Regions from separate parts of the Homo sapiens genome. Here region 1 is linked to region 2. The links come from fine-mapping of genetic effects on gene expression. A gene starts in region 2. The other region holds a variant in brackets. All regions are shown on one strand. Distances are from middle to middle. Region 1 overlaps RASA2 (RAS p21 protein activator 2). Region 2 holds the start of RASA2 (RAS p21 protein activator 2).

Region 1 (15,116 bases), 130 kb after region 2:
AAGGTCACACAGCTGACAAGTCACACTGCTGACTAGGGCTCTGAATCCTGGCCCTACCACTTTAAATGTTCTTTGAAAAATATGTGAATTAATAATTATATTTTTTATTCATGTACAATAAAAATCAATTTGACAAGTATAAATATTTATATGTTCTTCCTAGATAGATGCCTCAATTAGAAAGGTTATTAGAAGCATCCTAATCCTGTCTTTTCTGTATTAATGTAATTGGTTCTCTTCCAACAGTAGTAATCCAGTTTCCTTGGAGCCCTGGGAAGTTTCCATATGAGATCCCAGACATTCTTTCTTAAATAGTACCTCTCCACTCATACCCATACACACCATACCACTTCCCAGCTTTATTTTTCTCTATTAAAAAATATCAACCTCTACCATACTAAATATCTTATTAATTTTATTTACCCTATACCAGAGTGTAAGTTCCATGATGGCAAGGGTTTTCTTGGTCTGTTTTGTTTACTACTTTATCTTTAAGTTCTACACTAGGGTCTAAGATTGAATAGGTGGTCAGTAAGTACTCATTGAATTAATGAAACAACATTTGGCATGAGAGATTATCCAGGGAAAATTCTAAATACTTAATGGATTATATATTTGTCACCCTTTAAATTTTTGTATTTCTTAAATTTTGAAAAATGACTTTTTTTCTTCTCTAGGGAAAATCCAATTGTTGGGAAAGCATCTTAGAGTTTAACAGATTGGTTCAGAAGAACTGGAAAATATTATTTTTCTTGGAGCTTTTCAATTCATCATGTATTTTGTTCATGGTATTTAAGAATGAGCATCCGCTTCAATGTCATCTGCCTCCACATTGTATTTAATATTTAATAATTGAAATTAATTGTTTGGGAATCCTGGTATTGATGTATTACTAGAGAATTTAAAGCCCAAGATTCCCTTCATACCTGTGTGACCAAATCCATGTTTCTGCAACTTCTTTTTAATCGAAAGAATCTTCCTAGAAAAGCTTTGTAACAAAGGGAGAACTCCTCCGTAGCAAGAAACCATCTCTTCTTGTAACACTCTGTTCTGTGGACTTGTTTTCACTACCATCAGTGCCTGCTCTATACTGCCAACATTGTGTTTTACTAGAAAATTCCAATTCATGACAGTTCAGAGCTTTTCATTTAGTTCATGTAGACCCTCCCACTTTAAAAAAGAAAAAAAATAAGAAGTGTTTTTCCTTTGGTCCATCAGTCATTACAGGTTCCATTCAAGACAGTGATAGAAACTTTAGAAAACTGCCAGAGCATACTTGAAAGTTGGTAGATCCTTTTGCCTAAAGATGTAAACAAAACTCAAGACAGAAGGAATCAGGGAATATGTGCTATTGTGTGCATCTTGTTTACATTTGGGATCAGTGATGGCAAAAGAAGTAATGAGACCACTGAAATTGTTTTCATTGTTTTAAATACCAGGTACTCATTTTCTTGATTTGAAAGTTTAACATGACTTCTAAGGACATCTCTTCAAAAAGAAAGTAAACAGGGAATGAAGGTGGTGGGAAAATCACTTCACTTCACCCACTATTTCATGTTGTAATAAGGGCCACCATAAGGATGCCCTCCTCATAGTGTTCGGTTCTGATCTTCCTCGAGAACAGTCACTTGGCGCACTTTAATAATCTGGACTGCTCCAGATTTGACTTTAGATACTCCATGGTATCTAGTCTTTATGATCAGTTGAATGATCAGTGTTTAAGTCTAAAAATAATGCTTTCCTGAAAATGTTTATATTTCATTGCTGTTTCCTTATTGCCTGCTAGCCAAATGGAATTTGGGCAAGCAACTCTTTGAAGACTTTTTTACCCTAGAAATTTACTTTTGTCCTAAAAACCCTAACTGTAAATAAGCAGTCGAAGCAAGTTGCCACCTTGAAGTTGAGGGATACACTTTGCTTCATCAGTATTAAAAACCATGGTACTCTTATTTTGTCTTTTTTAATTCAAAACATTTTCTAAATGTGGTACTTTGAACCTTGGAGTATTTACATGTTTCTGTTCAAAACTGTGACTTATTAATGTAAGTCTGCTAGTAGTACTTTTTTTGTCTGAGCATAAGCTATATTTCAAGATATACTTTGCCAATTTTGTTATTGGTGGGTAATCATTTTTAAATTATATTGTTATTAGGTAATTATTTTTAAAGACTACTGGCATACAATCAAAGTTGTTCCATAAAAGAATATAACTGAGCAATGTATTTCTCTAAATGACTTGTAAAAATCAATGAATTATGTTTAAGTCTGCATTATGGTAGGTTATTACTCCCAGCTCATTTTAAAGACAAGTTTGAAAGAGTCCTTTAAATTTTATAAGCTTGTAGATTCCATAAACTACACTGATTTATACATTTGAAAGAATTTAGCCATTTAATAAATTTCTTATTCTCAAATTGCATTTAGATTAAAATTCCTTTTAAGAGTGTCTGAAATGTCTGCCTGCGAAGAACATGTAAACATTGCCAGATACCAGTCATTATTCTTTAGTGGCTTTTTAGTCCTCTGCTTTTTTTTTTAAGGCAAAAGAAATATGCATCTAGCATTTCTAATACCAAATCCCCAATTGTGATTGTTTTAAAGATCATGGTATGATCACAGGGACCAAGGCTGTGTGCATATATAACTCTGGATTTGAAAGGAGGAGAGTTCAGCCATCTAGTTCTTTTCTTCACATGACACTTTTAAACAGCCAGTTTGACTGGAATTAACCAACTTGGCACAGCCTAAAAAAGGAGTAATGTGAAATTAAATTATTTTTCTTTGAAAGTCTTTTGAAATAAGAGACCATGTAAGTAGGACCCTAAGACAACCAAGGAATTTGCTTCCAGGGCCCTCATTCCTCTGCTGTTACTTACAAATGTTTTAATTTTTACTACCTGATATTCTTTCTCTACCTTTTCCACATTTGAAAATATACAAGGCAGCTCACTTCATCCTAAAAACCTAAAAACTCCAGGAAGGAAAGAAAAGGATGATATGGGGAAATTTGCCATAAATGCCGGTTCTGGTTCTTAGTTTAGCCATTTCCATCAGTTGAAATTGTGGTGTGATCTGTTGCTTGTTTCGTTGTTGTTTTGTTTTTGTGTAGCTTTGTTTTTTAATATTCATTTAATAAGATGATGGGCAATAGCAAACATTTTTACTCCCAGGAATATAATTTATCAAATTGAACTATTTTATTTGCCAAAGAAACTTGTTTTTAATATCACGGGTAATGGGTAAGTGTGAAAACTAGGCTTTTTTTTATGAAACAAAAAAAGGTGACGAATAATATGGCTTTTGTTTCTGTTTCTGAAGCCTGATTTCATTTATGCCAGGTTTTGAAAAACAGATCTTTTTCTTAAGTGAAAGCACCTTTAATTTGCTCTAACGGTACATCCTGTAAAGACAGAATTCTGCATAGCCTTTTAGGTGTTTTTACAGTATGTGAAAAATACAAGACTCATTCTAGAGTTAAATTACCAATCTTGGTTGATATTATCTGCTTCCATTTTTATTAATTTGGAAATTAATATGTTGCTAGTAAATATTGGTTTTTACAGTACCCAGTTTGAAAATGTAAGTTATCAAAACTTAATGTAGTGAATTTGTGTAACCATGTTGTATTGTTGAGAATGTATTTTTATTTAAATTTTATTTTCTTATCAAGAGTATTATAAAAATTAACTTTTGTAACTGTCGCTTGGAAATAACTCAAATAAATTACAAGAAGCCTGTCTGTTCTTTGTGAGACTGTATTTTCTTACTGATTTAGTAATTTCTTCTTAAAATTATTATACCTTTCCTATTAGTAAGGGAACTGTGGAAGTGAGAAGTCTCCAGTAAGAATGATGCAATCTGAAAAGTGTTCAGTTTTCTTGCACTTAACTAGGCTGATTTTTGATGGGTGTGTTCTTTTTTTTTTTTTTTTTTTTTTTTTTTTTTTTTTTTTTTTTTTGAGACGAAGTCTTGCTCTCCCCAGGCTGGAGTGCAGTGGCACAATCTCGGCTCACTGCAACCTCTGCTTCCTGGGTTCAAGCGATTCTCCTGCCTTAGCCTCCCGAATAGCTGGAACTTCAGGTGCGCACCACCACGCCCAGCTAGTTTTTGTATTTTTAGCAGAGATGGGGTTTCACCGTATTGGCCAGGATGGTCTCTATCTCTTGACCTTGTGATCTGCCCACTTCGGCCTCCCAAAGTGCTGGGATTACAGGCGTGAGCCACTGCGCCCAGCCTCTAATGGGCTGTGTTCTTACATGTTCATTCATTCAACAGACTTGTTTTGAGGACCCATGGTGTTCAAAACACCTTGCAGGCTCCTGTCATTCCCTAGAGCCATGTACAACTGTCATGGAGGAATATAATTCACTTGTGTCTAGATAAAGTTTAAAGCTGAGTTTTCCAGACTATGTTTGACTTTTTAAAGAAGAGTAGAAAGAAGAATTCTTTCAGAGCCTATGGTTACTCAGGCCCTGCACTGACCCGTGCAGATTAACCTACCCCATAGCTTGACCTTCAGTGCATCATCCTTCAGGATGTTAGAATTTGCCTGTGTTCTGCCATTTTGGTGAGATGCCTGGAGAATATAAAGTGACAGCACCAGAGACCAGGTTAGTGGGTATAACTTGTGCCCTCAACAAGAGAAGCCAGGATCCTCCCTGATTCGTGCCTGAACCCTTTTATAATAGCATCCCTGAAAAACCCTTCTATAAAACAAAGTCCCTGGGCTCCGGAGGAATTAAAGGTTAACAAAGTGCAAAGGATAGGGTTCTGAATCTCTATATTTATTGAAACATTAGAATTCCTGTCATACTAGCCCATGTATAGAATAGAACTTGTGAAAAGCATCAGATTTAGGGTTCTAGTCTACGATAGAAGTAAACTAGGCATTTAAGGGAGAGGGGACCATACTCCTATTTCAAATTGTATGATTCCAAAATGAGAGACACCTAGGGCCAGAGTCCCTTTATTACACAAGAATAAGAAACAAGACATACTTTGCCACTCCTGGTATATGTTTTTCTACTCCAGTGGCAAGTACTGAACTCCTCTGGAAACGTTTCAGAGAATAACCTGTCGTGGGTGCTGACCATATTTAAAGATCTTTGGTCTTAATTCTTCATACATACCTTCACCTGAGGTTTGCTCTTTTGTGGCCAAGAAGTTCATTCTTTGGCTTACCATTTTGCCATTTGACTTCACAGTTTGGGGACACCATTTGCCATCATATTTTGAGCTTATGCCTATTTTTTATATTGACAGCAGAGGTGTGACTTGTTTAATTAAAGTACTATTAAGATTTCATCGCTTTTCTGCCTTGTATTTCAAACCTTTTTGTTTTGTACTATTAGGCAAAGGCTTTGTGCTTTTTATTGATCTGCTTTTTGAGATGGAGTTCAGTCTTAGATACATAAATTTTACTCATCAAGAAAGAATTCTGTTGTCTAGAGCAGATAACATTGTTTTCCAAACTTAACATTTTTTTTCTCAACTCCATCCAGAACCAAGAAGACCACACTGCCTGCAGAGTTAAAGGAGCAACCATTATTTTAATGGTTCCCTGTGCACAATGAGGTAAATGATCCCTAGACAGACACCTCAGAATCTGCATCAGAATGTAGTTTTTTTGTTTTTGTTTTTGTTATTTGAGGTGGAGTCTCGCTCTGTCGCCCAGGCTGGAGTGCAGTGGTGGGATCTTGGCTCACGGCAACCTCCACCTCCCAGGTTCAAGCAATTCTCCTGCCTCAGCCTCCCGGATAGCTGAGATTACAGGTGCCCAACACCACGCCCGGCTAATTTTTGTATTTTTAGTAGAGACAGCGTTTCACCATGTTGGCCAGCTGGTCTCAAACTCCTGACCTCAGGTGATCCGCCCACTTCGGCCTCCCAAAGTGCTGGGATTAGAGGTGTGAGCCACCTTGCCCAGCCAGAATGTAGTTTGAAAGACATTATCAATATTATTTTACGTTTGGAAATGCAGAATGTCACCTAATTTTATAATACAAACTACCAAAAACAAAGGTCAACAAAATCATCACTGAGAGAGAGTCATAGATGAGGCCATAATTCTCACCTGGAGACCTTTGGGGCCTGAGGTTTTGGTGTTAATGTGGGACATTTGCTTTTAAAGCTTGGAAAACACAGGAATATAGGCTAAAGTAAATTCCAAATCTTGACCTAAAGTCTTAGTAATAAACTGCCATCAAAATTATGTGTCAGGAGTAAGAATACAGCAAAAATCACTGGTCCCTTACAGCTTGAACTCTGGGAAATTGAAGAAAAGTAAAATATGTCAGATGGTGGTATGGAGCAAAGTAATGTGCAGGAAAGAGACAGGGAGTGCTGAATAGGATGAGGGGTCAAGGAAGGAGATATTTTTCAACAAAGACCTGAAGAAGGTGGGGAAGGAAGTGATGTGGATAGGAAGCGAAGTGATGTGATATGAGGGGAAGATCCTCATAGGAAGAAGAAATAAAATTACACGGTATACTCAAGAACAGCAAGGGGATTGGTGTGGCTGAAGCAGGATGAGTGAGAGGGAATGGGAGACAGGAGACCTGGGTGATGGAGAGGTCAAGTGGCTCAATGACGTGATTCACTTACCTTTTTTGGATTGCTCTGACTGCTATGTTGAGAAACATCTCAAGGAGGCCATAGGAGGAAGAGGGGACAGGTAGGCCAGTACACTCATCAGGTGAGGGGTGATAGTGATAGCGAGTGCCATGGGTGATTGGAGTGGTCAGGTTCTGGTTATGTTTGATGGTAGAGCCAACAGGATTTACTGACAGGCAGAATGTGGAAGGAGTCTGGGAAGATCCAGTAGCCTAAGCAACTGGAAGAAAAGGGGTCATTCACTGAGATGGGAAAGACTATAGGAGGAGCAGGATTTTATGTGTTTTATCTATGTCCATGTTAATGACTCCTGGAAGCCAGGTCCACTTAAATCACTTAGTAGCAGCACGTATTTTATCTAGTTTTAGACATTTATCATAACTTCCTCACCAGATTGTAAATGACTCCAAGGATAGGGAAGGGCTTTTATTATACCCTACAACCCTTGCTCTTAGTTGCAAAAAGGCGCAATAAACATTCCATGAAGGAATAACTTACTGTGGCTAATGATGGAACAGCAATGTCTTGGCTGACAGTGATGACTCAACTAGAAACTACATTTATGATCTTGGTTAAATAACCTCTTTGGGTTTGTGTGTCTTTACACATGTAAGATTTTAAAGATTATATTGTCTAGAAAAAGCATCGGGCCCCTGCTACGCACTACACACCCTGCTAAACCCAGGGGCCCTAAGATGCTGCCCTCAAGCTGCTCTGGGTCAAGCTAGGGACTGGACCAGAGGGACCTGAGGATTTTTCACAAGTTCAATGCCCAGACAACCCCTAGGGCCCCTCCCACCCCCCAATTATTTGTGTAGATCATTCAATAATTCCTCCAGTGGACTCTTCCTGAGAGGATCTTCCCAGCCTTCCCCAAAAACTCCATGACAATGGACCAATTTAGTAGCATCTTTGACCCTATAGAATGTATTGTCATGCTTCCCCCAGAAGAGTCCTGGTCATTCCTGAGATTTTTGGCTTAACCGATGAAAGAGCCTGATGTGGGAAATGAACCCAGCACCCATTCCGCCAACGTGTATGGACAAAAAGCAGCCTTGACCGGGTGCGGTGGCTCACGCCTGTAATCCCAGCGCTTTGGGAAGCTGAGGCAGGCGGATCACTTGAGGTCAGGAGTTCGAGACCAGCCTGGTCAACATGGTGAAACCCCATCTGTACCAAAAAGTACAAAAATTAGCTGGGCATGGTGGCGCACACCTGTAATCCCAGCTACTCCGTAGGCTGAGGTGGGAGGACTGCTTGAATCCAGGAGGCAGAGGCTACAGTGAGCCAAGATTTTACCCCTGCACTCTAGCCTGGGTTGGACAGAGTAAGACCTTGTCTCCAAAAAAAAAGAA[G/A]AAAAAAGCAGCCTTATGACTCAAATAAGGAGTGGACTGACAGTTGCATTCTGTTGGCACAGAACACATCTTGGATGATAATGGCCCTTCCAGTGTGCGGCATAGATCCAGATATTCTCTCCTCTGGCTGGGCAGCCACTCGTCTACCCCTCCCACTGTTTACAGGGAACATGGAAAAAATTAAAACGTGTGGCCAGTAAGAGTGTAACCATCATTTGGAGACTCAGTTGGATTTTTCTGTGTGGTGGTTTGAAAGAAAACAAAACAAAAATGCTACATTTCAAAAACATTTGCAGCAAAAAATAAAGTAAATCATTATCTCAAGCTAATTTTTATAAGTAAATGCTCTATTTACTTGTATCTTGGAAAGTTTCAAAACATTTTATTTTATTTAAATGCTTAAGGGAATGTAGAGATTTGCTCAGTTATGAGATAGAAATGCTTAAATCTAATCACTCTATTTGAAACATTTTATCCACATATTGAGAAATATGTGAAAACTTTTACCAACAGACCACTAAAACATAGTAGGGAAGCAAATCATATCACCTGCGTACCCTAAATTCCTAAAGTCTATATAGCAGTCAGCGAAAGTGCCGACATTCAGTTAACCTTTGTTTTTCAGCCACCCTAACAACAGCGAGGGGTGGCGGGGAGGGGGATGGAGTTCACGTTTCCAGTCATAGTTCAAGAGGTGTTTTCTCAAACCAGACCCAGGCTTCCTACAATTTCCTGCAATTCCAATACAACCAGCCCCACAGGGCTGGGGGTGGGAGGAAGAGCTTGTCCTTTGGCCTCCTTTTCACTGGAACCCTTCACTTGTCATCTTAAGAAGACAAAATGGCCTGGAGGTGGGGGCTGTGGGGGCTCCTCAGGCACCAACAGCCATTTACAGAGCCTGGGAAGGCCCGGCCTGCACCAGCCTCAGACCCCACAACCCTCCTCAGGGCTTCCAGGGCCACCCTTAGGGCCACATAGGTGGGCTTAGAGGATCAGTGCTATCGTGCCCTCTGCTGAACTAGTGCACATAATAAATTCTAAATAAATGTTATTATTACTACGAGGCCTGAGACAGACACCCAATCTCATAAGAGGTGCCCAAAACATTTAGGTAGCCCTCCTTCAAACCCTTGATGCTCACTCAACCTGTGGGGGTTTTGACTGGGGGTCACACTTTGAGAGCCATTGGCTGCTCCATCTCTTCATGAGACTGGCTCTGCCTGTGACAAAGCAACACCTGGACCACCTTAGAACAGTGATTCTCAACCAGGGATGGTTTTTGCCCCCAGGGGACATTTGGCAGTATCTCAAAAAAAAATTTTTTTTTAAATTTTTGAGACAGTCTCGCTCTGTCGCCCAGGCTGGAGTGCAGTGGTGCAATCTTGGCTCACTGCAACTTCTGCCTGTGAGGTTCCAGTGATTCTCATGCCTCAGCTTCCCAAGTAGCTGCAACTACAGGCATGCCCCACCATGCCCGGCTAATTTTTGTGTGTATTTTTAGTAGGGGTTGAGGGGGTTCACTATGTTGGCCAGGCTGGTCTCGACCTCCTGACCTCACGTGATCCTCTCATCTTGGCCTCCCAAAGTGCTGGGATTACAGGCATGAGCCACCATGCCCAGCCTCAAAAAATTTTTGTTGGTCACAACTAGGAAATTGCTGTTGATATCTAGTGGGTAGAGGCCAGAGATGCTGCTAAGCATCCTACAAGGTACACAACAGACCCCAACCACAAAGAAGTGTCAGGTCCGAAATGTCACTAGTGCCTAGTGTATCCAACAGTTAAGAGCACACAGGCCTAAGGGACAGACCTGGTGCCACTGGCCAACTAAGCAGCCTTGGCCTTGTTCCCTAAGCTCTGCAAACCCCAGTCTCCAAGCATCAAATGGGAATGATAATGATATCTGACCTCAGAGTTGGTGTGTGGAACATAAACAGAGTCACACAGCTCAGGTCCTTGAGCACACAAGCAGGTGCTCAGTGAGTGTCAGGCTTTATTTTTGGGTAATCCAAAGCTGTCTGCAAGGGGAACTCCACTTTGCTCTGTCTGAGCTACAGAGACCTTGTTTTCACAGATCAGGGCATCATGACCCCAGGTTCTCCATTTGGCTGTGCCCCTGACTTCTCCTCTCTATTACCTTTGCTCAGTGCTAGGGATACTCATGCAAGCGTGCAGGTGGAAGCCTACCAGGGGCGAGAAGTACACAGAGAAATCTCCACCCTGCTGAAGAAAGCAGCAGCATTACCACGCAAGAGCTCCAGAGAAACCTCTTTTCTCAGAACTGCTGGCTCAGCGGAGCAAAGGTGACTTTGTGGGACTCTGTGTGGGTTGAACCAACCCTAACTAGGATATTAGGAGCCATGCTGGTCCCCTAGTAGGAGGCTCCAGGCCTAACAGTGGGGCCTCAGGAGGAGTGGCCTCCACACCACACCTGAGAGGAGGGAGGTGGGGAAGCTGCTGGGCCTAGGGGATGGACAGCTAAAGGGCTCCCTGAAGAGGAGAGATCAGAGCCCCGCCCGAGGCCCTGGTGGCCAGAAGGGCACAGAATGGGAGGCACGCCGTGATGATGACCCCAGGCCAGAAGGAGATTTCTTTTCTTTCTTTATTTTTATTTTTATTTTTATTTTTTGAGATGGAGCTTTGCTCTGTCACCCAGGCTGGAGTGCAGTGGCACCATCTCAGCTCACTGCAAACTTCTACATCCCAGGTTCAAGCGATTCTCCTGCCTCAGCCTCCTGAGTAGCTGGGACTACAGGCATGCACCACAATGCCAGGCTAATTTTTGTATTTTTAATAGAGACAGGGTGTCACTGATACACACAGGAGACAGGGAAATACTGGATAGAAGAGGGCAGTTCCCTGGCAAAGGCCCACCCTCAAGCCTGGAAACCTGCGGCCCTAAATGAGGACAGGCATTCCTGTTTTCGCCCCCAAAAGTTGCCTTTTGACCTGCCATGCTCCCCTATCCTGTACCCGTATAAACCCCAAACCCCAGGCTCCACAAGCAGATGAGATGAACAGAAGAGCAGAATGGCAGAATGGCCTGGCGGAGAGAAGAGGAGTGTGTGAACACGGAGAAGAGTTCGGCTGGGGACAGTTGGAGAGGAGATTGGCCACTGAATGGCCAAACTCGAGGGGAAGATCATCTTCCCACTCCATCCCCCTTTCAGCTCCCCATCCATGCCACTGAAAGCCACCTCCACCACTCAACAAAACCCCTGCATTCACCATCCTTCAAGTCCACATGCAACCTGATGCTTCCTGGATGCTGGACAAGGACCTGGGTACCAAGAGGGCACTGAAGTTGGTTAAAACTTGAGCCGTCCATGGACGGCAAGGCTAAAAGAGGGCACTGTAACATGCACCCACTTGGGCTTTGGGGGTCGCAGACACCCACCCCTGGGCGCTGCCCTGGGGCTGGAGCCCAGGGGTATTCGCCCCAGCTCCTGCACCTGCCCATCTGCTCCCCCTCCCATAAGGGGTTTGAATGCATATGGCAGCCAAACAGACGAGCCACACTCCTGTTGCACGTCCTGCGTGGAGGGGTCAGGGGACTCTCCCGTTTTCATCACCATGTTGCCCAGGCTGGTGTCAAACTACTGAACTCAAGCAATCCACCCACCTCAGCCTCCCAAAGCGCTGGGATTACAGGCGTGAGCCACCACCCTTGGCCTCCAGGAGGAAATTTTTACTGTGTCGAACCAAAAACTGCCTCCTGCAGGCCCTGTCCTTCCCCCAGCCCTCTGTCCCTCCACCCTGCCTCTTGAAGGCAGCCCCACCCAGTTCTGGAACCGTCCTGGGGGCAGAAAGGACTTCAGAAGCTCCCACCGCAGCAGCATGTGGGTTCCGCCTGGGCTAGGGTTAACAGATTTAGGAAATAAAACACAGGACACCCAGTTAAGTTTGAATTTCAGAGAAACAACAAATAATTTATTAGTCTAAGTATGTTCCATGCAGTACTTATGTATTGTATCTGGCAGCTGTCCTCTCTCCACACACACAGGACACAGTCCCTCGGGAAAAGGAGCCCCTGGGGAGAGGCGCTCTGCCCTTGGCCCGCCTGTGGCTGCTGGTTCTGAGGGGTGGAAGGTGCCTGTTGGGGGTGCGCCCCTGAGCTCTAAGCAGGATGCAGTCAGCTTATGAGGGACCATCTTCAAGTCTCCAGAAAGTCCTAAGTTCAAGGAAAGGATAAAACTCCAAGCAGGCCCAGGGTAGCCCCAACCTCCCTGTCCCATGGACCCCTCCTTCCTCCCTCCAGCAGGGCCTCCCCGCCCAGCCTCAGTAAGGACTTGGCCCCAAGAGGCCTCTCTCAGGTGACTCACTGGGCACCCGGCCTTTGCTCCATCGGTGGAATCGCACTGGTGCGGATGTGTCTCAGAGCCTGGAAGCTGGAGTCAGGGCCCTAGGCTCCTTTCCTTGCTGTCATGTCCCCTTAGACAAGTCCCTTGCTCACCCAGTCTCCACTCCTTTTGCTGGAAATTGGAGACTAAGGCCTCTGCCTCCCTCAGGAAGTGTGTAGTTGGTGGTAAAGGAGGACACCTGTGTTCGGGGCAGTCATTATTCTTTGGGGCCCTAAATCTAAGTCCATGCAAGGGTTCACCTCTACGGCCATCTGCTCTTTCCCATTTGAAAACGTAATAGCGTGAAGAGTAGCTTCGGGACAGGCTCCAGGGACCCTTTAAACTCTTCTCATAGAAAAGATGCGGCCAGGCGTGGTGGCTCATGCCTGTTATCCTAGCACTTTGGGAGGCCGAGGATGGTGGATCACCTGAGGTCAGGAGTTCGAGACCAGTCTGGCCAACATGGTGAAACCCTGTCTCTACTAAAAATACAAAAAAGTAGCTGGGTGCAGTGGCATGTGCCTATAATCCCAGCTGCTCTGGAGGCTGAGGCAGGAGAATCGCTTGAACCTGGGAGGTGGAGGTTGCAGTGAGCCAAGATTGTGCCACTGCACTCCAACCTGGGCTACAGAGGGAGACTTGGTCTCAATGAAAGAAAAAAGAAAAGAGAGGAGAGGGGAGAGGAGGGGAGGGGAGGGGAGGGAAGGGGAGAGGAGGGGGGCTCTACCCTGTATAGAAGGATTAGTCACACCTCATAGTAGAAAGGCCCCCTCCATTCCTTGCAGTTCAAAAACCCTCATTTTGAATCTTTTCACATTCCAATAATCATATTTGCAGAGCATCTTTGACTCTTTTTCAAATTCCCACATCATCTAAACTTTCATGGCCTTGGGGAGAGAACCTAGTCCACCCTTCTAGCCCCACCCGGCTCTGCCTCAGTGCACAATTCTGCCAGTATACAGCCCACCCACAGTCCAGATCACCAGGTGCAGGCAAGGTTCAGGTGCCAGACACTGGGGTCAAAGTGGACCAGAGTTCTAGAAGCAGGGATGCGAGCTAACGCAGAGGGCATTCATATGCATTTCATGAGCACTCTCTTACATAATCCTCACAACGGTCCTGACACCGAGGGAGATTCTGCTGCCCAGAGAGGGTAAGTGGCCATCCCAACAAGGAAGGTATGGCCCAGAGCAGTCCAACTCATCAGGCCAACGGGTGGAAGCCTGAGTGCAAGGCTTAGAAAACTTGAAGGCAGGCTAGCACATGCTCAGTGCCTCTGTGGGAGGCTCAGCTACCACTGAGGAGCAAGGGCAGAGGCACAGGATGCAATGGGGCCGCTGACCAGCCTCCGAATGCAGGGGCCCAGAAGGGAACCTGGAGGACCAGGAATGGGGGAAGCTGGATGAGGAAACAGGAAGCATCATGGCAGGCACCTGTGATGTCTAACCTGCAGCCCACCTCAAAGATGCCACATCTGACGCCAGACAGCCCAGGAGTGCGCCCCTCTCGGGTCTGAATGGGCCCAGCAGGAGGTGTGGAGGACAGCCACGTGAGACAGCAGGGGCCCAGCCAGAGCCCAGGGGGACAGGTGTATCACCGGCCCTGGAGCCCTGAAGTTCATCCCTCACATGCCCTGGTGAAATGCTTCCCAGCACCAGACCTAAGCTGGGCCCAGACACAGGGCACTGTGCCAGGATGGGCCCTGAGTCACCCCTGCCCTCCCAAGCTCAGAAGCCACCTCCACCCTCATTTCCCCACACTCTGCTCTGCTCCTTCCTCAGTGTAGACTCCTGACGAGCCCACTGTCCCTGCACCTCCAGGCCCAGGCCTCAGGCTTACTGGACACTTGTTTCTAACTCTCGTTCACTGACAGAGTTTTCTGCCCAGTCCTGCGGATCTGCCCACCCGGGACAGGCAAGGGGCCAAGGTCAGGCCTCAGACTCCCTCCTCTCTGTGGCTCAGTCCCAAAAACTGACTGGGCTCAGATACTTAAAACTTTAAGGACTTTCTCCCAATATTGTGGATGCTCTGTCCCAAGTTCAGACAGCCACAGAGAATCCAGGATAATCCTCTCCCAGCACAGTCATCCCAGGGAGTGACCACATCTGAGTACCTTCCAGGAAATTGTCAGGTACCAGGCAGATTCTTGACCCTTGAAACAACCCCTTCACCCAGAGCCTGGGAATCAGCCAGAGGGTCCTTTCTCACTCGCCCTCCTTAAACCCCCTATTGCAGTTCAATCCCTGGGAGATGGAGTGTTTCTTCTCAGGCTTCTGCAAATCGGTTTCCCATCTGAGAGTTAACATTTTAGGGAGCTTTGGAAAGAAAGAGAAACATTAGACCAGTGGCTCACCAAGTGTGGTCCCCAAGACTAGCAGCATCAGCATTACCTGGGCACCTGCTAGAAATGCATCTTTCCAGCCAGGCGCAGTGGCTCACACCTGTAATCTCAGCACTTTGGGAGGCTAAGGCAGGTGGATCACAAGGTCAAGAGATCGAGACTATCCTGGCCAACATGGTGAAACCTTGTCTCTACTAAAAATACAAAAAAAAATTAGCTAGGTGTGGTGGCACACGCCTGCAGTCCTAGCTATTCAGGAGGCTGAGGCAGGAGAATCACTTGAACCTGGGAGGCAGAGGTTGCAGTGAGCCGAGATCGCGCCACTGTGCTCCAACCTGGGTGACAGAGCCAGACTCTGTCAAAAAAAAAAAAAAAAAATAGAAATGCATCTTTGCAGGCCCCAGCACAGATGAGTCAGCCACTGCGGGGTGAGCCTGAGCCATCTGTTTCACAGGCCTTCCAGGTGATT
Region 2 (15,116 bases):
AGGTGAATCAGCAGTGAGGCTGGGGAGAGATATTCTAGTGAAGAGCCAGATGGAGGATGTAGGGTCTGAGAGGCAGCCAGAGTGGAGTCTGAGTCATCAGGGAAAACAAGCAGGCGCTGCCAAGCCAGGAGGAACCAAATCACAGGTACTATAGATACAGCCTCAATAGCAGGCCCTCACACAACTCCCAGGATTGAGCCCGTCTCACCCTCAAAAGAAGTATCCAGAAAGTATCCAGACCACCCACCCACAACAGAAATCTGCAAAGATGCAAAAGATACTGCATTGATACAAGGACCCCACCTCTTCTCTGTCTCTATGGGGTCATTTAGCCACAACTCCATCAAAAACTCAGACACCATCTCAAAAAAATATAAAAAAAGAACGCAGATATCTAAGAGGCTGAGCATTATTTACCTAAATGGATGGACCATTTATATAATGTCTATTTAGGTCGCTGACACCTGTAATTCCAGTACTTTGGGAGGTCAAGGCAGAAGGATTGCTTAAGCCCAGGAATTTGAGACCTGCTTGGGCAACAAAGCAAGACCCCCATCTCAACAAAAAATAAAAATAAAAATAAATGGCTTATACCTATAGTCCCAGCTACTCAGGAGGCCAAGATGGGAGGATCCCTTGAGCCCAGGAATTCGAGGTTGCAGTGAGCTATGATCATCCACTGCACTCCAGCCTGGGTGACAGAGTGAGACCGTGTCTCAAAACAAACAAACAAACAAACTGGTGCATCAGAATATTTTCCCCTCTATTCAGTTATTGGAGACTCATAAGGAAGAGAAGAACAATTTTAGAGAAATGAAGATGCTACATCTTCTTTGCACATCTGTGGGTAGGATGAAAAAAATCTGCAACCCTTCACACATACTAGTGTTGCCAGTTTTTCTTGTCCTCCTCCCCACTGCTAAATTTGGTGCTGCTTGGGCTGCTCAGTTCCTCCCATCCACCCACACCCAACTGTAGAGAAGAGCGTGGAGGGTCCAGACCGGATCTTTGGGACTTTTGATGCAAAATTTAAAAAAATAAGAGAGGAATAGAAATGACATAAGCCACATGGGTACATTCTAGGGAGAAAAGAATCAAAGCCAAGCTTTTCTTGCAAGAAGCAACTGAGAGTGGGGGCCATTGATGTGCTCAGGGGCATCAAGTGGGAGCAGGAGGACAGTCAGAGATAGAAAGAGAGAACGGGTGGGTGGGAGAGTGTGCTACTCTGGGGAAAGAGGGTGAGGGATCTTGGTTTTGTTGGATATTGGAGAAGATAAGATGAAAAACATTTTGATAAGAACTGCTCCAGCCTGGTGCTGTGACACACACCTATGATGCCAGCTACCTGGGAGGCTGAAGCAAGAGAATCCCATAAACGGGAGTTCGAGACTCACCTAGGCAACATAGCGAAACCCCATCTGAAAAAGAAGAAGAAAGAAGAAGAAGAAGAAGAAGAAGAAGAAGAAGAAGAAGAAGAAGAAGAAGAAGAAGAAGAAGAAGAGGAAGAAGAAGAGGAAGAAGAAGAGGAAGAAGAAGAAGAAGGAGAAGAAGAAGAAGAAGAAGAAGAAGAAGAAGAAGAAGAAGAAGAAGAAGAAGAAGAAGGGGAGGAGGAGGAGGAAGAGGAAGAGGAAGAAGAAGAAGAAGAAGATGAGGAGGAGGAGGAGGAGGAAGAGGAAGAGGAAGAAGAAGAAGAAGAACTGCTCTAGATTATATACTTGTATCTCATTTTTTAACAGTAGAATTACTATCAGGACTTTGCTTCTTTGAACTCTACCCACTCAGGCACTGAACAACGCAGACCTCAGCTTTGACAGGTTTACAAACACAATGACCCTGTTAATACAAAAGATGTATTAACATACAGCAGAGATTCTCAACGGGGCGGTGATTTATCTCCCAGAGGATATTTGGCAGTATCTGTAGACATTTTTGATAGTCACAACTGGAATATGCTGGTGGCATCTAGTGGATAGAGTCTAGGGTGCTGCTAAATGCCCTATAATGCACAGGACATTCCCCAACGAGAAAGAATTACCCATCCTAGCCAAAATGTCAGTAGTGCCACAGTTGGGAAACCCTGAAATAGAGAAATGGAGGAAGGGCAGTTGTTTCCTTACAGCTTCCCTTTCCAATGACAAAATAAAAGACAGCTTTGTTTCATTCGAAACACGTTCTCAAGTGTGTGATATTCATTCTTAATCAGCACTACATACATATAATAATCTCAGCCAAACCATATAAATCAGTTCCCTAAAACCCTTTAAGGTAAAAGAATTCCCATTGAAGAATTCCAGATCCTGTGGAAAAAACGGAGTTGAATAAAGAAGGCTCCAGAAAATTTTGGAAAATCTTTATAAATATTTGTATTTTCAATATGAAATATGAAAATATAATAAAACTAGCACAGCAAATAAAATAGCTATGACATGTAAGACATGCTTATTATGGGTAATCAGGTTACTCTCTATGCTTTGCTCATTCTGAGAGAATCCTCAGAATCTAGCTTATATTCCATCACGCCCCTTGAGAAAGTTTAGCTGAGGTGTTAGTACGTTTGTTTTGCCTCATTGCAGATAAGACATTCACTAAGAAGGATTATTTGGAGTTAAGGGTGCTGGGGACAGTGGTATATTTGGCCTTCCATACAGATGCTCTATAAATGCCTCTGGATTTTTATTTCAATCTCCTTGGCCCCTCTCTCCAACAGCCCTTCCCAGTTCTATCTCTGCACAGACAGCCCAAGAATTCAGTCCTAAGGACCCACCTTACATGGCTTAAAACAACAATACACAAACTAGATGTTTTACATTCTGGTGGCCATGTCGAGTAATTATTTGATAGGCCACGAGCTTTCATTTGTGGCTGTATATCCAAGTCAGTTTTCCAAAATTCAGTTATATGATTATAAAATAAGTACCAATGTCTTTAGAACTAGACAAAATACAATTTATTAAAATATTTTATCTTTATATATGTGATAAGGATTGAGGGGTTCACTCCCTCATTCCATCCCCAATCTTGCCCTCTTTTAGATGAAAGGCAGGAGGCAGTTGCCTAGGAGAGGGCAACCAATAGCCCTGGCCTAGGCAGGTCAATGCTGGCCTCTCTCCTTCCCTTGGACCCTCAACTGTGAGGGCTAGGATACCAGGCCGGGCTGTTCCTAAAGACTCTGAGCCCAAGCAGTGCAGCTGGGCCTAGAAATGGGGAGGTAACCCTTCTTGCCAACTTTGCTGAAAATGTGGAAGCCCCGCGGGTTCTGAAGGATAACGCTCTCGGCTTGGGCCTTGATAGTCTCATAGCAGGCATCATAAAGTGGTGAGGGTCCCTTTTTGTGACAGTGGCAGGGGGAGCCAGAGCAGGAGAGGAAGAATATAACAAATCCAGCAACCCCATCATGTTCCCCACACCCTACTCTGCCAATGTAACCCACTGGGCACTCCTGAAAATCAATAATTGGGAAGAGGTTTAATTATTTGGGCAGGTAGAAAGTGGAGACACAATAGAGAACTGCGGATTATTTATGTTAACAGGATTTCATTTGTAGCCACAGACTGACATGCTGCCTAGATATTTGGTCATAATAACAAGTATGAAAACACCTTGCAACTTTGAAATCAGTTTTCCCAGCTTCTACAACCACCCACAAAAAATTGTATCTAGCCTACGTTTAGAACACAGATTATGATCGATGAGCTTCTGCTCTCCTTGGCTGTCTCTGACAAAAATGAGCTGCTTGTGACAGACGCAGCCCCAGCCCAGTGTGAGGATTGGAAACCTCAGACCCTGACTCTTTCCCTTTCTCCTTCCTTATCTGACTCCTGAGCTATTATTGCCTTTTCTCTGCACCTAAGCTTTCTGCAAAGCCCAGACCCAGCCAGCTGGTTCTGTGGTCTGCTCTGATTTCCCTTGTGGATTTTAAATTCAGAATTCTAGGCTCATTTGTTAGCAGCTTCTCTGAACACATTATCTCATTTATTTGCTCATTCATTCATTCGTTCATTTATCAAACATTTAATAAGTGCCTTCTGTGTTCTTCTATATTTTCTATGCGCTAGGGAGGCAAAGACAAAACATTGTCCAGTCTTTGAGATGGTTTCAGACAGGTAAACAAACAGGAATAGTAAATGTGTTATGAGCACTACAATGATTATGTGTATTCTTATATACATGGTACATAATGGCCTAAAGGAAAAAGAGGCCAGTTCTGTGAGACAAAGTCAGGAGGTGAAGATTGGGCATTAAATGTATTGAAATATTTTCATTTGAACTTAGGCACTATTATTGGAAGATAAGTATGTTGATATGGTGAACAGAGTTGGCTGCCTACTCCATGTCTTACTGCTCCCCTTTCTGTGTCACAAGAAAACACTGGTTTGGTTCAGGCTTCAGGTCTCAAGTAGCAATGTACTTTGGGAAGGAGGGTTCATCCCCAGACCCAGGGGTATCAATGTTGCTTAGACTAAGAAAATTATATATTCCTTGTGATTGTAAATGAGCCTTAAGAAGATACCTCATGGTGGTGATTTACAGGAAAGCTACCTGGAAAAGCGTTCCTCCCTAATATTAGGTTGGTGCAAAAGTAACTATGATCTTGCCACTGAAAGTAATGAAAAAGACATTTTAGAAAAAAAAAAATACACCTTCCTGCCATTGGATGTTGAGATATTTGGAGGTACAGGAGCCATATTGTGACCATGAGGCAAAAGCCAAAAGAATTGCAAAGAAGCTAACCCAATAAAGTCCTGTTTATGAATGAATACAGAGTAGAAAATGAAACAAGTGAATGGCTGCACAACATTTCCAGTTTTCTTTTTACACTTATTGTTTTGTATGTTTTTATTTGTTTGGTTGGTTTTGAGTTTTGGGGGTTTTTGTTGTTTTTGTTTTTTGATTTGTTTTTTTAATAGATTTGGGGTCTCACTATGTTGCCCAGGCTCGTCTTGAACTCCTGGGCTCAAGTGATCCACCCAACTCGGCCTCTGAAAGTTCTGGGATTATAGGCATGAGTCACCATGCCCAGCCTACACCCATTGTTTTGTTTTATCACTAAAATGACAAGAATGCACTGCAGATGGAATGGATATGGCAAAATAGTTCAAAAGGAGGGGGATTGAGAAATAACTGAAGTCACACTGACCTAAGGGCATCAGCTGTATTGTGCTCAGATATTCAGGCCTTTAAAGTTCTCTTGCAAGAGGTGACAGAATTTGAAAAAAAAAAAATTCTATTTTTAGAGACAGGGTCTCTCTCTGTCACCCAGGCTGGAGTGCACTGGGATGATCATAGCTCACTGCAGCCTCAAATTCCTGAGCTCAAACAATCCTCCCACCTCAGCCTCCTGATTAGCTAGGAGTACAGGCAGGCACGTGCCACCATGCCCAGCTAATTTATTTATTTATATTTGTAGAGACAGAGTCTCACGGTGTTGCCCAGGCTGCTCCTGAACTCCTAGCCTCAGGTGATCCTCCTGTCAAAGTTGGTATTACAACCGACTGTTGGATTACAGGCATGAGCCATCACATCTGGCCTTGAAAATATTTGTACCGAAGGAGTTGGAGGTTTTAAGGTAAAAATTTGTCCACATTTTTGTCCACACAGCCTTGTCAATGGCCTTATTTGGTCTTCAAATGAAATGTTGAAAGTATGTTTTCTGAACATTTAAGGTCTCTCCTCACCTCCTACCACTCCAATTTTATTTTTTAAAATGCCAGTTGGATTTAGAGATTTTTTTTTAATAATGTAATTAGTGCATAATGCTTAACATCAAACAGTACTCTGATGGGGCAAATGGGGAAACCAAGTCATCAATGATCAAAGGAACTTGCTTTCCCACCAGTCCGGCAGAAACAGTTCTGTCTCATGAGTGTCCAGCCCTATGAAAATGATCTACATTTAAATATTAAAAAGAAAGCACATTTCTCTTCCTCCTACTCGCCAGAAAAAATGTAATAAATAACTCAAGGCCAGGAGACAACCCCTTACAATGCCATGTTATAGGTTGGTGGGTGCTGATTCAAAAATATGCCGTAACAGACAAGTTATGGAATTAGTTTCTAGCTGCAGGTTATAGTCTTCTTATTAAGAGACAATGTAGTTTTCCTACATCATCTGCCATAAAGCAAGCCAATGTATGGGTTGAAATGACTGAATGAGTTTAAAACTGGTGAAGAAATAGGAAAAGACATAGTAGTGAATGGTTGCTCATCAGAACGAAGAGTGGTAGGGATAGAAGGGATGGCCTTTAAACACATTCATTAATAATTTGAGGAAGGAAGTGAAGTTCAAGTTTGTGATGATGCAATATTGTTCCAGTTACTAAACATCATGAAGAAAAGAGAGGAACTCTAGATGAATTTAAAACATAATGCAAGGGCAATAAGGGGAATGAGATGTAACAGCCTTCTCGTAATTATACTGTATGTCTTGTTAGTCTTTAGAAAACTTTATTTTCGGCCGGGCGCGGTGGCTCACGCCTGTAATCCCAGCACTTTAGGAGGCTGAGGCTGGTGGATCACGAGGTCAGGAGATCAAGACCACAGTGAAACCACGTCTCTACTAAAAACACAAAAAAAATTAGCCGGGCGCAGTGGCGGGCGCCTGTAGTCCCAGCTACTAGGAAGGCTGAGGCAGGAGGATGGCATGAACCCGGGAGGCGGAGCTTGCAGTGAGCCGAGATCGCGCCACTGCATTCCAGCCTGGGCAACAGAGCAAGACTCCATCTTAAAAAAAAAAAAAAGAAAAGAAAGAAAGAAAGAAAACTTTATTTTCCAAATATTTTATATTAAGGAAACATTGACATTACCCAAGATCTCTTCAAAGTAGGCAAGTATCAGTAAAAACAGAATAATTAGAAGTGACTTCGGATGAAAAAGCAATGGAGTTTGGGGATTTTAGTGAAACGGTATAAGTCCGAAATCTGCAAAAGGAAGACTGTCTGGAAGAACAAAAAAGTGGAGTGTCCCTTTATGTAAAATTGTTTTCATACCTTTAGTGACCATTTAGTAACAGAGTTATGCACTTGGGGTTAAGCTAGTGAAAAGGAAGGGAAGTTAGAAGATTTTGACACTAATGGACAAAGATATTGATACTTTGTCCATTGGATACGTTTGTCCATTGGATACATTTGTCCATTTGTACATTGATACTTTATCCATGGATACATTTGTCCAAAGGTTCAAATAATTTCTCTGTTTATTGGAGAAAGAAATAGATGGATGAGGCATCGCTTGGCCAAGCAGGAGGAAGGCCAGAATCAGGCTGGTGAGAAAAGGGGCTCAGTGTGGCTGGAGATCAGAGGAGTCAGGTACGCTGGATCCAGTTCCAACTCTTGGCTGAAGAATTTGAACTTTAGTCATTTCTAGCATTGTTCATTACCTGTAGTGTGCTCTTGCTAGCTGGCTGAAGGGATAAATGAAGCCACTGATGTCCTCTTGAGCAGGCAACTGATAAGCTCCATTTTTTTTGTTAGGAAAGTTAATTTAAGTGGTATGTAGGAGGAATGAGAGGGATGGGGGACTTATTACCAGAGTTCCAGTCAAAAGCATGAGGTCAGTTACTGAGGTAATCCTACTACGTGCTCAGCATTCCACTAGACACTTAACACCCTGCTCCCAATACTTATTTAATCTTAATAACAACCCTTCAAAGAAGAAAGTTTAGCATTTCCACTTTACTGTTAAAGAAACAGGTTCAACCGGGCGCAGTGGCTTACACCCAGCACTTTGGGAGGCTGACGCGGATGGATCACTTGAGCCCAGAAGTTCAAGACCAGCCTGGGCAACATGGCAAAACCCCATCTCTACCAAAAATACAAAAATTAACTGGACATGGTGGCGCGCACCTGTAGTCCCAGCTACTTAGGAGGCTGACATGGGAGGATAGCTTGAGCCCAGGAAGTTGAAGCTGCAGTGAGCTGAGATCGTGCCACTGCACTCCAGCCTAGGCAACAGAGCAAGACTGTCAAAAAAAAAAAGAAAGAAAGAAAGAGAAGAAACAGAAACAGGTTTAGGAAGGTTGAGTAACTTGCCCAAATGTAAAAGGGGTAGAAACAGGCTCTATGTCTGATTCTAAAAAGGGATGCCTTTAAAAATAAGGGGGAAAAAACCCTGTAACACGTTGATACTCTTTAAATGAGAATAATTTTAACAAGGGCAATGACAGAGAATGGAAAGGAAGGAAGAGATTTCAGCAGAGTCAGAAGGATGTGGCAACTGAAAACAGCATTGGGACAAGGGATAAGAAAAAGTCAAAGTTTCTGGCCTGAGTAACAGTATAAGATGTGAACTCAGATTTGGAAAGGGAGACAGGAAATTAAGTTTTGGACTTATGTTTGAAATGACAGCAAAACATTCATATAAGAGGAAGTGGTTCACTTTATCCAACAAGTGTAAAGATCACATGGGGAAATAGAAGTCACCTGCAACACAGGCAGAACTGGAAGCTTCGCTGGCCAGGTCCATGTTAAACTCTGACCATTCTCTGGGGCTGTCCAGCCTTTGCACAGGCGGCGCGTTTGTCTTCAGTTTTCAGGTTTCCCCGTCCTATTTCTTATCTCCCAGTGCCTCTGGCCTTTTCTGTGTCTCCCTCCAGAATGAGCTGGAGCTCTCTTCATCTTGACCTTTGTGTAGTCTCTGAGGTCTGAGGCCATCACTATGTCTGACCCTCAAAAAATATTTGTTGACTGACTGGCTTATTCCTGTTGTTGCCCTGGAAAAGAATTACCCTGCCCGATTAAGTCACAGTTTCTTCCTTCTTAGGGCAGCGTAGTTAACAACCTCAACACCAGGAAATTGTCTTCCTCATCACATACCAGGGTATTATTCATGCAGTTTACTCACTGTAAAGAGTTCCCTTGAAATAAAGCTAACAATTAGTCAAAGATTTACACATTTCCTAGGGTCAGTCAACTTTTTAACAAAGCCAACTTTTAGTAGTGGTGGCGGTGGCGGGGGGGAGCCCTTCTTTGCTTTTTCTGTTCCTGAAATACAAAAGTGATGGTAAATGCTTCAGAATTTCTCTATGAGAGGGTCTCAGGCACTGCACTCACGCTGGAGTTGGGGGTGGCTGGTCCTTTTCTTGAACCAGGTTTTGCAGAGAATTGGTCCTAGTAAAGAGTATTTGTGTGGGAGGAGTTTGGCTTGCTGGCGGGGAGTATTTGGATAATACTGGAAGAGCCTCAAATGCATCTCTTGCCTCCTTTTGAATAAGATACTTTTGAGGTCCACCCACCTGCCAAATTCCATTCTATTTTCTTCCCACAGGGAGTTTCCCTGATTGGGAAGGGCCTGTATTTCCCGCGAGCGTTAGGAGATGTGCAGGTCTATTCATTGGGGGAGCCCAATTCCCGGGAGGATTTAGGGATCACGGGAGGGCCGGGGCGTTCTCCTGGTGGGGATTTTAAGGCCGCTCAGAGCCACGACTGGGAGCTACCCTTAGCCAGCGCCCCAAGCCGGGAGTACGGTTCTCTGCAGGGTAGCCCGGCTCGGGGGTGGCGAAGGCGGTGAATGGAGACCCGGGGGGGGCGGGGGCGGGGCCGCGGCGGGCGGGGCGGGGCGGGGCGAGTCGGGCCGAGGCCCGGGGGCGGGGCCAGGCGCGCGGCTGGCCTGGGCCTAGGCCGCTGCTGGGCTCCGCCTCGCCCGGCTACGCAGGCGGCAGGGCTGCGGCACGGGCCGGGCGGCACCATGGCGGCGGCGGCGCCTGCTGCTGCGGCGGCTTCTTCCGAGGCGCCAGCGGCGAGTGCGACTGCAGAGCCCGAGGCCGGGGACCAGGACAGTCGCGAGGTTCGAGTGTTGCAGAGCCTGCGGGGCAAGATCTGTAAGCGGGGGCTGGGCTGAGGGGACGCCCTGGCGGCGCTGGGCGCGAGGCTGAGGGGGCGGCGGGTTCGCGGCGGTGGCGGCGCCGAGCTGCGCTGGGATCGCGGGCCCGGGAGGGGGCCTGGGCCGGGCGCGGTTGAGGCTGGAAGGGGGTGTGTTGGGGGGCGGCGTCGCCTCGACGGGGCGGCGTGGGCCGGGGCTGCTGCTCTCCGGAGGGAGTGGGAGCTGGAGATGGGCCTGGGGTGGGAGAGCCCGGGCTGCGCCGGCGTGAGGGGCTCGGTCGTGGGGAGCGGCCTGGACGCGGGGACGCTGGAGTCCGGGGCGCGGCCGGGGGCGCGGTCCGGGGGCGTGAGGAGCTTCCGGCCGCCCTCAGACTCAGGCCTTCGCGCGGCTGCGGGCGCTGGGGAGTGGCCCCGCGGTGGGAGCCGAGCAGTAATTATACGGAGGCGCGGCCCGAGGAGGTGGCGGGCTGGGAAGTGGGGCTGGCCCGAGGGGAGGGGGCTGTTCGTTTCCTGGGCTCGGCGAGCCTGGGAGAGGTTGAAAAAGGCGCCCTGAGCTGCAGGAAACGGGCCGCCCTGGGGCCCGAGTGGCTACCGCGCGGTCTGTTCGCGGGTGAGCGCCCCGGGAGGAGCTCGGCGGGACACCTGTACTTGCCCCACCTCGCTGCGGCCGGGACTTGAATCGAGGGACGGCGTGACAGGCGGGACTAAAGGCAGGATGTAGTGGCTTCCTGTGAGCAGGTCTCAAAACACAATCACCCAGCCCGCACTCAGCCCGCTTAATTCCCTTCCTTCTCATGCGTGTAATTGCTACTTTAGTGAGCGAGCCTACCAGTTGACTAAATACGAAATTTTGCTCAGAGTTGTCCGAGCATTACTGTGGACAGATTATTTGAGTTCTGTCATTTGAACATTTTAGTTTTAAAAACGACCCTTTGGTGTCAGGTTGCCATTTTTTTTTTCACAGTGGTTTATTTAGATGAAGTGCTTTTTGTTTTCTGTTTGTAAGAGAGATCAATAACATTTATTTTTGCATTTGTCGAAAATTAGCATTATTTTCTTCATGCAGTATTCTCAGATTGGAAACATGCTTCATGTTTCTTATAAATAACCCTCAATTATGAGGGCGTACTTTTCACTTTGAAGAAAATTGACTTGCATTAAAGTGGCTAACAATTCTTTCCTGGGCAGGATGTAAAATTTTCCTCTCCTCTAATACCAGTACTGTTGAGCTCACATTCTCCCACTTTTCCTCTTTTCAGGTGGTTCACGTATTTGGGATTTTATGAAACCTCAGAAGCAGACATGTTAACTTTTCTTATCTTTTTATTCCCTGAGGTAGTCCTGGGGCTCTTAAGAGATTACAGTTCTTAAAACCTGGAAAGTGACACCAGAGAGGTAGATCTTAGTTCCCAAAATTAAAGTTACTTTCTAGGGCATAAAACCTTTTCAGAATTCAGATTAAATTTTATTTATTTTTTCTTTTTTCTGTAACCTTATATTTGAGGGGAAAATTTTGTTTTCAACTTTTGCATATATCTAATTTAACATTTGGGAAAACTGTAAATGGGCCAAAGTTTCTCCCTTTATATGATTTTCCAGATTTTTACCACTTTCTTAGTGCCACTTGATGCTAGGCATTGTCTATTGGAGACTCACTGGTACGTAACTGCAGGTTTTACCATGGAACTACATATACACATGTCTTGGAATTGAGGGTTAGGGTTTCCAGAAGGACTTAGTTGTCCTGTGCTTTTGTCTGCCCCATGCCAAAGACCACTAAGAACAGTTTTGTAAGTGAAACTTGGGTCTACACGTTAAAAAAAAGAAAAACAAAAAACCACTTTGTTTCTATGGTTTAAAGCAACCCTGGCTTGGAAATTGATCATCCAGCTGCTGGGAATGATATTACTGCTTTAACCACAGTTGAAGTATTCTATCTGTTATCCTAGTCAGTTTCTTGCTTTTTAAATTGCTTATCTTATAGCTCAGGTTATGGAGTGTCTGCTTTCTAGAAAAAAAAAATGTATTTGTATACTTATATACAGAAGCTCTCTTCCCATTTCTTTGTCCTCCTTTTAAATGATGTAATCCACAGTTGGTTGACATTCAGAACCTTGTGAAGAGATGCTGTTTTCTGTTTCCCTGAAACTAACATGTGGGTTTTGTAGGGTGGGGACTGAGGGGTTGGAAGAGTCATTAGCAGGTGTCAAGGTCACAGAAATGAGATGGTGGTGGTTCTGACAAGATATTAAGCAGCTTGGGGAGGGTGTAACCGTGTCAGCTTTTCTCTTCACCACAGTAGGAAACCTTGGAAGAAAGCCTGATAGTGCCCACTAGGAGATGTGCTGGCAGATTTTATACTACTGATTGAGAGCCTCTTTTCTGGAGAGTTAGAGATCTGTAGGGGCTGAAAATTAGCCTGAAGAAATTTTCTTATTTCTGGACTTGCATAGGACTTTTAAACTGCACATCACCCCAGTGAAAAGTGAGGATGGATTGGTTTATGTATCTTGAATGTTCAAGAGATAATAGTCCATAACCTTCTTTAGGGATTTCATTCCTGTAATTATTTCCCCTTATACTTCACAAGGTGAAATATCTGTCAGTTGGACAGATATTTGTCTATTGGACAAGAGGAAACTTAACAAAAAGTGGTAACCAAAAAGGTGGAGGTCACAAAATAACAACATGAGACCTCAATATATATAAAGGATGAAGCCCCAATACCCCTTTTTTGCTTGAGTGTACTTTTTTTTTTTTTTTTGCCGGGGGGCTGGGGAGGAGGGAAGAAGGGACATGCAAATATGTTTCAGGTGTTTTATATGCGCTCAAACGAACCCAGGGAATTCGAGATCCATCTATAAGACAAAATATTGTCAGCAACCCTGGATTTGCTGCAGTTTGCGCTAGGAAACCATGACAGTTCTGAATTGTCTGCTTCCTTAAACTTTTTCAAGAGGTGAGTTTGGTTGTTTGATATCCTAAGGTTGTCATATGAACCCTTGATAAAGGAAATTAGGGGTGTACTCGACTCCATTCTTCGGTCTGCACTCCTGTGTAGCGAGTAGCAAGTATGCTAGAACACCTGAAACACATTTGCATGCTCCCTCCTCCCCTCAAAAAAAAAAAAAAAAAAAAAACCGTATTCAAACAGAAAAGAGGGATTGGGGCTTCCTCCTTTATGTATCTTCAGGCTTCATGCTGTTATTTGGTGACCTCCTTTTTGATTAGCACTTGTTAAGTTTCCTCTTATCCAATTACATTAGATTGTAAAAATGTTGCGGAGAGCACCCATGCCACCATATGTGTGGGCTTATCTACTCAAGGAATACCAGATCAATAAGAGAGCCAAATGGGAAAATTTTGTGTGAATTTTCAGATGTGTGGTACAGTGCGAGATCTGTGGGACTATGTGTTCCAAAACTCACTTAGTTTCTCTGGTGTCTTCAGACCAAGAATAGCCTAGGGTTATTTGACAGAGTAGGGAAGATCTATAGGGTATGGTTAAGTGCTTGAGCTTAGAGGCTGGGTGAAAAAGTTAGTTACCTGGGTTTGAATCTTCACCTAATTTCCAACTTTTGTTAATGTCTTTGGGCCTTCATATTCTCATATATAAAATGGGGATAGTAAAAATACCTATCTCACGGGTTGTTATGAGGTTTAAATAAGCCTCCCTCCCTACTCTGCCCCTCCTCATCTCTGCCTGCTCTTTCTCACTCCCCAGGATCTGGGTCATACACCGACCATCTCTTAGGAAGGAGTAAAGTAGGAGATAAAAACTAATCTTCATCTGATGTTCTTGTCCAATGTATACTGGAGTTTCCAGGTGTACAAAGCTGATTAAAATCTGAAGACCTATATTCTTCTTTAAACGTTGTTAATTAATCTTCATATGGCGTTAGCCAGCTCACTTATCTTGAAGCTTACCTTCCGCATCTTTTAAATGGGAATGATGCTTTTCCACTATCCATTGTATACAGGTTGTTCCCTCTGCTTGGGATTGTCTTTCTTCTTTACTCCACCCCATCTTTATGTCAGGAAGCTCCTACTCATCCCTCAAAAGCCTGCTCTATGTGATCTCCTTCCCAAAACCTTCTGAGACACTTCCAGTGCCATCTCTGGCCAGCATCTCTGCTGCTGGGGAACACAATTCCTTGCTCATTTCCTTATTATAGCACATTTCATAGAAATCATTTGTTCACTTCTCCTGTTAGATTGTGAGCTCTTTCAAGATAGAATTGATTCTTGTTCATTTTTAAAAAATCATCCCAGTGTCAGCACAATGCCTAGAACAGAATAGGCCTTTAGAATATGCCCTACCTCACAATGTTATCCTGTGGATAATTACTAGATATGAAAGTATTTTATAAATTATATACCTAAAAAAACTAGAAGGTGTTAGTATTAAGAGAAAACTGTATGAGTCTGCATCAGGAAGTTCATCCCTTTCAAAATCACAGTGCCCACTAAGCTTAGGTTTGAATTGATGCCAAAGTTGCCTTGTTAGGAAAAAGATTAAATTTTTCTTAATGCTCTGATTACTTATTATTAGGGCATTTGAATATTGTTACTAATTGGTCCTGGAGCTTGGAAAAGAAAATCTCATATTCATACTTTACACATTAAGTGTTTTAATTTGACATGACAGGTTTGAATAAAACCGTCTATTTAATTCTGTGAAGTATAAATCAAAACATTTTATTGACTATCCAGTAAAGTTGAGTGGAAGAGATTAAAAAGGGTGTATTCATGCTAAGAGTTCATTTTTATCAGATATTTGAAATGAGATGATGAGTTATTTAGGATGGAGGAAGAATCCATCTTTCAGATGGATAGAAACTGGGGAGAAAAGGGTTCTTTGTAAAAGTTCACAGAGCAGTCTGCTAATCATTTGCTCTGTGGAAGACGGGAGGTAAACCTCAGTGAGTTCATAGAGTTGTTTTTTTAAAACTTAGAACTCTTTGAATAGATCCTTAAGTGACTAATATAGCCAGAATAAAACCATCATTTTATCCTTTAATCATAGCTGCTAATCCTATTTCCTTGTTAATGTGCTTTATGAAATTATTTGACAATAATATCAGATTACATGTTTTTGCTACTAATAAAGTTCTATTCTCTTTTGAGAACTGCAAACAAAATGTTGTATAGTCATATATTCATGTAAGTTAAGCTTTTTATGTGTATTAAGACATTTTTATGGCATCTCTTTAGGTTTGTATGTAATTTTAGTTATCAAAAACCCCTATCTAAAGTGATAAACATTAAAAGTTTGTATCAGTACACATACAGAGAACCATAA

The links.
Region 1: its variant is fine-mapped to the expression of RASA2 in whole blood (TOPMed, PIP 0.98).

Annotation. Positions count from the first base shown.
Region 1 is chr3:141,611,606-141,626,721 of GRCh38, forward strand. RASA2 (RAS p21 protein activator 2) reads left to right here. Exons shown (of 24, transcript NM_006506.5): 24 at 678-3,739. The coding sequence ends at 708. Among named protein-coding and RNA genes, the nearest start is that of RASA2-IT1, 94 kb to the left of the region's middle. The variant G/A (reference allele first, on the strand shown) is at 7,968.
Region 2 is chr3:141,477,404-141,492,519 of GRCh38, forward strand. RASA2 (RAS p21 protein activator 2) reads left to right here and starts at 9,624. Exons shown (of 24, transcript NM_006506.5): 1 at 9,624-9,813. The coding sequence starts at 9,681. RefSeq lists a silencer at 9,533-10,412.